Homo sapiens: one gene and its partner. The protein of the gene in region 2 interacts with the protein of the main gene of each other region in a pairwise test. Each region holds a gene or a part of one and is shown on either strand. Other genes may lie near its edges.

Evidence for each region. The genes of interacting proteins can lie anywhere in the genome.
Region 1: the proteins of CD53 (region 2) and CREB3L1 interact in binary tests that used the Homo sapiens proteins (3 or more experiments, as listed by UniProt).

What each region holds. Positions count from the first base shown.
Region 1 is NC_000011.10:46,284,162-46,287,661, forward strand, and holds part of CREB3L1 (cyclic AMP-responsive element-binding protein 3-like protein 1), read left to right. Parts: intron 1-3,500.
Region 2 is NC_000001.11:110,876,148-110,879,647, forward strand, and holds part of CD53 (leukocyte surface antigen CD53), read left to right. Parts: exon of another isoform or gene 1-1,487; coding exon of another isoform or gene 1,488-1,538; intron 1,539-3,500. UniProt on the Homo sapiens protein: Structural component of specialized membrane microdomains known as tetraspanin-enriched microdomains (TERMs), which act as platforms for receptor clustering and signaling.

The DNA of each region.
Region 1 (3,500 bases), on a different chromosome or scaffold from region 2:
CCCTCCAGTCAATCGCGGACGAATGAGAGAGACAGAGAGGGAAATAGGCAGTATCAACACCATGGTGGGCGCCATGATGGAGCAGAGCATGGCAGGAGGCTGAGCCAGGCTACAGGTCATGAAAGCTTTCTCAGAAGGTGATCTCTGCACATGCTGCCCCAATTTCCCTCTTCCTTAGTGGCAAAGGAGTTATTAGAAGGCTTTTCTGGCCAGGCATGGTAGCTCATGCCCATAATACCAACACTTTGGGAGGCTGAGGCAGGTGGATCACCTGAGTTCAGGAGTTTGAGACCAGCCTGACCAACATGGTGAAACCCCATCTCTACTAAAAATACCAAAAAAATTAGCCAGGCATGGTGGCATGTGCCTGTAATCCCAGCTACTTGGGAGGCTGAGCCAGGAGAATCGCTTGAACCCAGGAGGTGGAGATTGCAGTGAGCCAAGATCGCACCATTGCACTCCAGTCTGGGCAACAAGGGCAAAACTCCATCTCCAAAAAAAAAAAAAAAGGCATTTCCACAGGGACTGGGGCCATGTTCCTTTTACTGAACACGTATAGGCATTATTATCCATTGTGCACTCTGCTCAAGGGCAGGAGTCCTATGGAGAGTCAAAGAGGGGAGCAAGAAGAAGCTACAAGCAAGTTCTCTCATTGTTCTAGTTTGAGATTTCCCCTCTAGAGCAAGGAAAATTCAGGATCTTTCATATCACAGGGTCCCTGTCTTCATCCTCACCCACTCCCATCCTTAGGGCACCTTGGATGCCTAGAGCTTTATGGGCAAAACCAGATCCCCTGAATAAGCTCCCACATCCCATTTCACACCCTATCAGATTCACCCCCAGGATGCTGTTCCCCAGCCCTTCTGGGGACTTGGATCTTTGCTCTCTGCAGCTCCCAGGACTCCTCAGGAGACTCTGTTTCTGTCTGCCCTGGCCTGGCCTGGCTACTGCACCAGGAGAGGGGAGCATAAAGGACATCCCTGTTTTGTGTCTTCTCCCTGTATCATGTGCCTCGTGCGAGTCCTGGTACCGAGGCCCTCCTGGAGCATCTCTCTCTGGAACCTGGCTTGCCCTTGAACCTCCCTCAAGAAACCAGCTCCAGATGCTGGAGAACAGGCTGTTTCTCTGGAAGTCTCAGCACTCCTGGGGGCAGGATGGAGGAGGAATATTTGGGTGGAGTTAAGTCAAGACTGTGAGCTGGAACTCTGTGTAACCCTCTTGAGCAGCCCTGGGGAAGCCAGACTGAATGGCAGGACCCTGGACCAGGATTGGGGAATGTGTGGGGGTGGGATTGTCTGGTTCAGGAGAAGCTGGGAGAGGCAGGAAATGCCCCAGGACTCTGACCCTCAGAGGAAATATGTCAAAGGTATTGATTTCTTTGGAATGTCAAAGATCTTGATCCCCACCACCTAGACACACCATATTGTCTACAAGGCCAGTTTGATAGCTGGAGCAACCATGGGCTTCCCTGCCGCCGGGTTCAGTGTGCCTCCTCCCCTAATTCCCCTGGGACAGAGCCTTCACTGCCGCTTCCTTGGCCGTTGGCTCGTGGCTCGTGGCCCAGAAGCCACTTCACCCATCACAGAGAGTTTGACACATCTGGGCTGGGATGTGCGGTCCGACATAACAGCTGGACAGCAGCAGCCACTGGCTCCTCCTCCCCTTCCAAAAGAATAACAAAAATGAAAGTAGCGATGGAGTGAGGCAGGCTCTTCAGGCCTTCATGGAGAGCCAGGAGGCGGGTTTCAGGCAGTGATTGACAGGGGCTCGCTTTGGAGGCAGACAGGTCTGAGCCTTTGCCCATGGGTTCCCCTCCACCTGGAATACCCTCACCCTTCTTTACCTCATTTCCCTCACTTGCTGTGTGACCCTGGGCAAATCACTTTCCCTTTCTGGGCCTTGGCCTCCTCATTTCTGAACTAAACTGAGGGCTCCTTGAGAGCAGGGTGTGTCAGTCAATTATTTGCGGCTATTCCCTAGGTACAGCTATAATGACTGAGTGCTCAGGAAATGTTTATTTATTGGATGGATGGAAGGAAGGCAGGATGGAGTAGGGTGGGGACGATAGAGGAATGAATAGGTGGGTGGATAGATAGTAAAAGAAAGGACACTTCTACACTTCCAGCTTTGATGGCCCTCTTTTTTAAAGTAGATTGCTTCATTCGTTCACTCATTTGATTACTCAAATCGTGAATGTTAGCATAAATGCCATCTCTCCCTTTCACTTTATCATCATGGCCTTTTCTATTATGATATCTTGTGCACTGGTAGAATATATAGACTGTATATCTATCAGTTATAAAGTATAATAAAATTAATACATGGAAACTTACCCAGCTTAAGAATCAGACTCAGGGCCGGGCATGGTGGCTCATGCCTGTAATCCCAGCACTTTGGGAGGCTGAGGCGGGTCAGTAGTTTGAGACCAGCCTGGCCAACATGGTGAAACCCCGTCTCTACTAAAAATACAAAAATTAGCCAGGCGTGGTGGCGGGAGCCTGTAATCCCAGCTACTCAGGAGGCTGAGGCAGGAGAACTGCTTGAACCCAGGAGGCGGAGGTTGCAGTGAGCCGAGATTGAACCACTGCACTCCAGCCTGGGCAACAGAACAAGACTCTGTCTCAAAAAACAAACAGACAAACAAAAAGAAAAAAGAAAAAGAAAGAAAGAAGAAAGAAAAAGAAAAGAAAACACACTCGGTTCTGAATATCTTGGTCTCTCAAAGCTGCATGAGTTTGGGACAGAGGTGAGCTGTAGACCCTGAATCCACCCCACTCTGGGGAGATTTTAAACAGGAAAGTCCCAAGACTTCCCAGGTGCGTACTCCCAGGCTCAACGTGTGCAGACAGTGGGTCCACAGGTCAGATGGCAGATGATGAGGCAAGTGCTGGGGAAGTGATCCTTGCCTGAGGCGGGACGTCTTCAGCACTGCTTAGACCTGGGGCCTCCCACTTGTCACCTGTGTGAGCTTGGGCAGGTGCTTTAACCTCTCCAAGCTTATTTTCCTCATCCAAAAGTAGGGTTCATGGTAAAACATAGGGTTCTTAAGAGAATTCCATTAGAAATTCTTGCAGAGGGCCTGGTACACCATAAACCCTCTATAAACAATAGTTGCCACTGCTGTTTTTATTGTTTTGGTTTTTAAATTTTTTTTTGAGACAGGGTCTCACTCTGTTGCCCAGGCTGGAGTGTAGTGGCACAAACACAGTTCACTGCAGCCTCAACCTCCCGGACTCAAGTGATCCTCTCACCTCAAACCCCTGAGTAGCTAGGACTACAGGGACATACCACCATGTCTGGCTAATTTTTTGTATTTTTTGTAAAGATGTTTTTTTTGCCATGTTGCCCAGGCTGGTCTTGAACTCCTGAGCTCAAGCGATCCTCCCTCCTTGGCTCCCAAAGTGCTAAGATTACAGGCATAAGTCACCACACCTGGACAATTTTTAATTTTTGTGGGTACATAGTAGGTTAGATATTTATGGGGCACATGAGATATTTTG
Region 2 (3,500 bases):
AATGAGAGCCAATAAATAGGAGCTGTCGCAACTGTCCAATCTGCTTACTTTTCAGGTAAAATGACTTGTCCAAAAATCATAAAATTACTTAATAGTTATTCAGAATGTCTTCTGATTCTCTATGGCATGCTCTTTCTTCTACATTATACTATAGTCCCTTTTCTAAGAGATTTTTTATTAAGTAAGCATCATTAGACTGTATTCTTCATTTACATAAATTCCTAGTGCATTTTAACATAAGCAAACATAAAAATACCACTTAATTGTAAATGTAATTGATCTTAAGCTACTATGCTAGCAAACTAAATACTTAACATATATTTTATTTTCCAAACCTTTTTGTTTGGCCTTTTCTATTTCAGGAGAACTAGATTGAGGAATAGGGGTAAGAAATGATTTTAATGCCTCATATCTTTTAAAACTTGTTAAAGTTTACTTGTTAAAGTAAATTTGAACTTATGGCTTACCTTATATCAGGAGCAAATAAAGGCATTCAAGAATTATTCCATAGTTTAGTCTTCTTAAAATAACTATTGTAGAATCTCAGTATTTATAACATAGAAGACAAATTGTAATGATTTTGAGATGAGAATCCCTTAGATCATTTATTTATTTCCCATCCCTTTAAAAAAATGACAAAATTCAGACTGATAAAAAGGTTGAAAAAATATTATGAAAAATTTCTAAATCCTTTTCACCCAGATTTCCAAAATATTAACATTTTACTTCATTTGTTTATTCTCTGGCTCTCTCATTTGACAGTAATTAGTAATTTGATTGATGCCCTTTCCCCTAAGAATGTTAGTGTATATTTCTACAAACAAATGCATTCTCTTATATAACTACTTTACAATGATCAAAACCAGGAAATTAACACTTATGCAATATAATTAACAATCTATGTACTTTATTCAGATTCCACCAATTACCTCTTTAATATTCTTTATAGCAAAAGGAAATTTCTAGTCACGCATTGCCTTCAACTGTCACTTTTGTCTCCTTTAGTCTGGAACACTTCCTGAATTTTTCTTGCCATTGATATTCTTGAAGAGTAAGGTCAGTTCTTTTTTAGAATGTTTCTCCATTTGGGTTTATCTGATGTTTCCTCATGATTAGATTCAGGTTATTTAAATTTTTGATAGGAATACCAACAAAGTGGCTTTTCTTATCCCACAAAGAGTCTTGCTTAATCTGAGCATAGCCAGCCTGCAGACACCATGGACAGGCCTCTAGCCGAGGGACCCCGTATGTAAAGTTCTGCATATTTCTACCTAGGAGGACGGAGAACCTCTGGTCTCTTGACTCTGTAACAGTGCTAACTGTTTTAGGTAACTGTTCCTGATTTACGAAGTAAGCTTATTAGAAGAGTCCCTGTCCCACCTCAGCTGTTATTAGTATCTTGCTAAGCTCCCACATGGGAGGAAGTGAGCTTCCAAGATCATCTGGATTTGTCTTTCTTCACTTTTTCTCTCCTCTTTTCTTCTTCCTTATTTCTCTCTTCTTCTATAAATCGCCAAATCCTCTCCCCTAACAGCGACCTAGAAGAAACAAAATTTTTATCAGATTACAATTTTAGGAAGGAATAAGATAACAGATATTCCTTGATTAGTTGATGGAGAGATGAATGGACACGAATACATGAGAGTTGATGCTTTGGCTTCGTTTTATTTTACCCCTACTTCTTCCTCTACAACTGCTTATTACTCTTCAAAAGGACGTACAGCGATAACTTTGATTGCACCTCAGCCACTGCTCACAGGAGTTCAAACGAGCTGATGAAAAATGGAAGGTCTTCTCCTGGATGCTCAACACATTGCACCAAATGAGTTGGGAAGTAATAGGCACAAAACCAGAGCCTGGGACGGTGGAAAGAGCATGGGCTTTGGAGGCTGAAAGAACTTGGCCTTCACCCTGCCTTTGATGATTCTTAGCTGGGTGACCTTGTGCCAGTCCTCGGCTTCTCTATTTGCAGAATGGGGCTAATGACACCTAAGTTGTCAGGCCGATTTGAGGATTATAAATAAGACATTTATGAGGAACTTAGTTATTTTGTGGGATTCAGTGAACTATCTATTATGTATCTCAGTTTGTTTGAGCAAGGCCTACATTTGGGAGCCCTCACTGGGGCAGATTTTCGCTCCTATTTAGAAAAACTTTTTCTTAATCACAGCCTCAATTGTCTTTGCTAAGGAACAAAGACTGCCACAGGCTCTGTGTAGGAAGGGATAGGGAGCCGTAATTACCTTGCGAATGCTCTTGTATGTAAATTGACAATCTGTATATAGAGAAATGTATATGGAGAAGTGTCTGGAAAGACGTTTGCCAAAATGCTAATGATGGTTATCTCTGGGAGGTGGGATTTCAGAAGATTTTATGCTTTCTTCTTTATACTTTTCTTTATTTTTTAAATGTAGAATTTTTTTTTAAAGAAAGCATGCTTACATTTGCTTTCTATTGCTGGATTTTTCAACTTTTTCTAATAGGTTTGAATGGAGTAAGAAATGTGTTCTAATAATATATATTCTCAATCTTAGCTTACAAAGGTGTTTCTCTACCAAACACTTCCATTCACTGAAAGAAAACAATTTATGCATCTTAAAGAAACTGTGCTTACATTTGCCTTTTATTGCTGGGATTTTCCAACATGTCTTAACAGAGTTCAGTGGAGAAAGAAATGTGTTCTAATAACGTATTCTCAATCTTAGCATACAAAGGTGTTTTTCTATTAAACGCTTTTCTTCACTGAAAGGAAGTCTTACAGAAACTGTACTTGCATTTATTTATTTATCTTTTATTACTGAAATTTAACATTTTCAATTTGTTCTAATAGGTACAAATGGAAAAAAAACATGTGCTTTTCTTTATTGTTTGATTTCTTTTTGTTTTTTTATTTTTTTTACAAATGGCACACGAAACCTCTTTTTAAAACGTATGAAACAAGCAAGGGATTATTCTTGCCCCGTGTATGTTTTATTCCTAAAAATCTGTTAGAAGCTAAGGGTTACCCTTAGGAATGGACTGGTAGGTAAGGTCTGAACTTGATCTTTCAGTGAGTTTTCACTGAATAAGGCAGATACACAGGGACTGAGCCATCCTGGAAATAGTATCTCATTTAGCCCTCAGAACAACCTCTGAGGTAAGTATTAATAACCCTATTTCAAAGATATAGTGAAAGACAGGTTAAGCAAGTTGCCCAAGGTCACACTTCTGATAAGTAGCACTAACAGAATTCAAAACTAGACCTGTCTGATTCCAAAGCTAGTGTTTATCAAACTGTGTTCCACAGAATACTATGTTATTTGACCTGTTAATAAGTGATCTGCAACATAAAACTAGGTTTGTAGTTATATAAACATATTTTTGTCTTAGAGACTCACAGTGCACATTAGCATATAACAGGTTTTTCTCTTACACTGTTTTTTTTTCTTTATCTTGGCTTTTGTTTGAGGAGCACTTACTAATATCTCATAAGCGTAATGGTCTATGTAGCACCAAAGCTG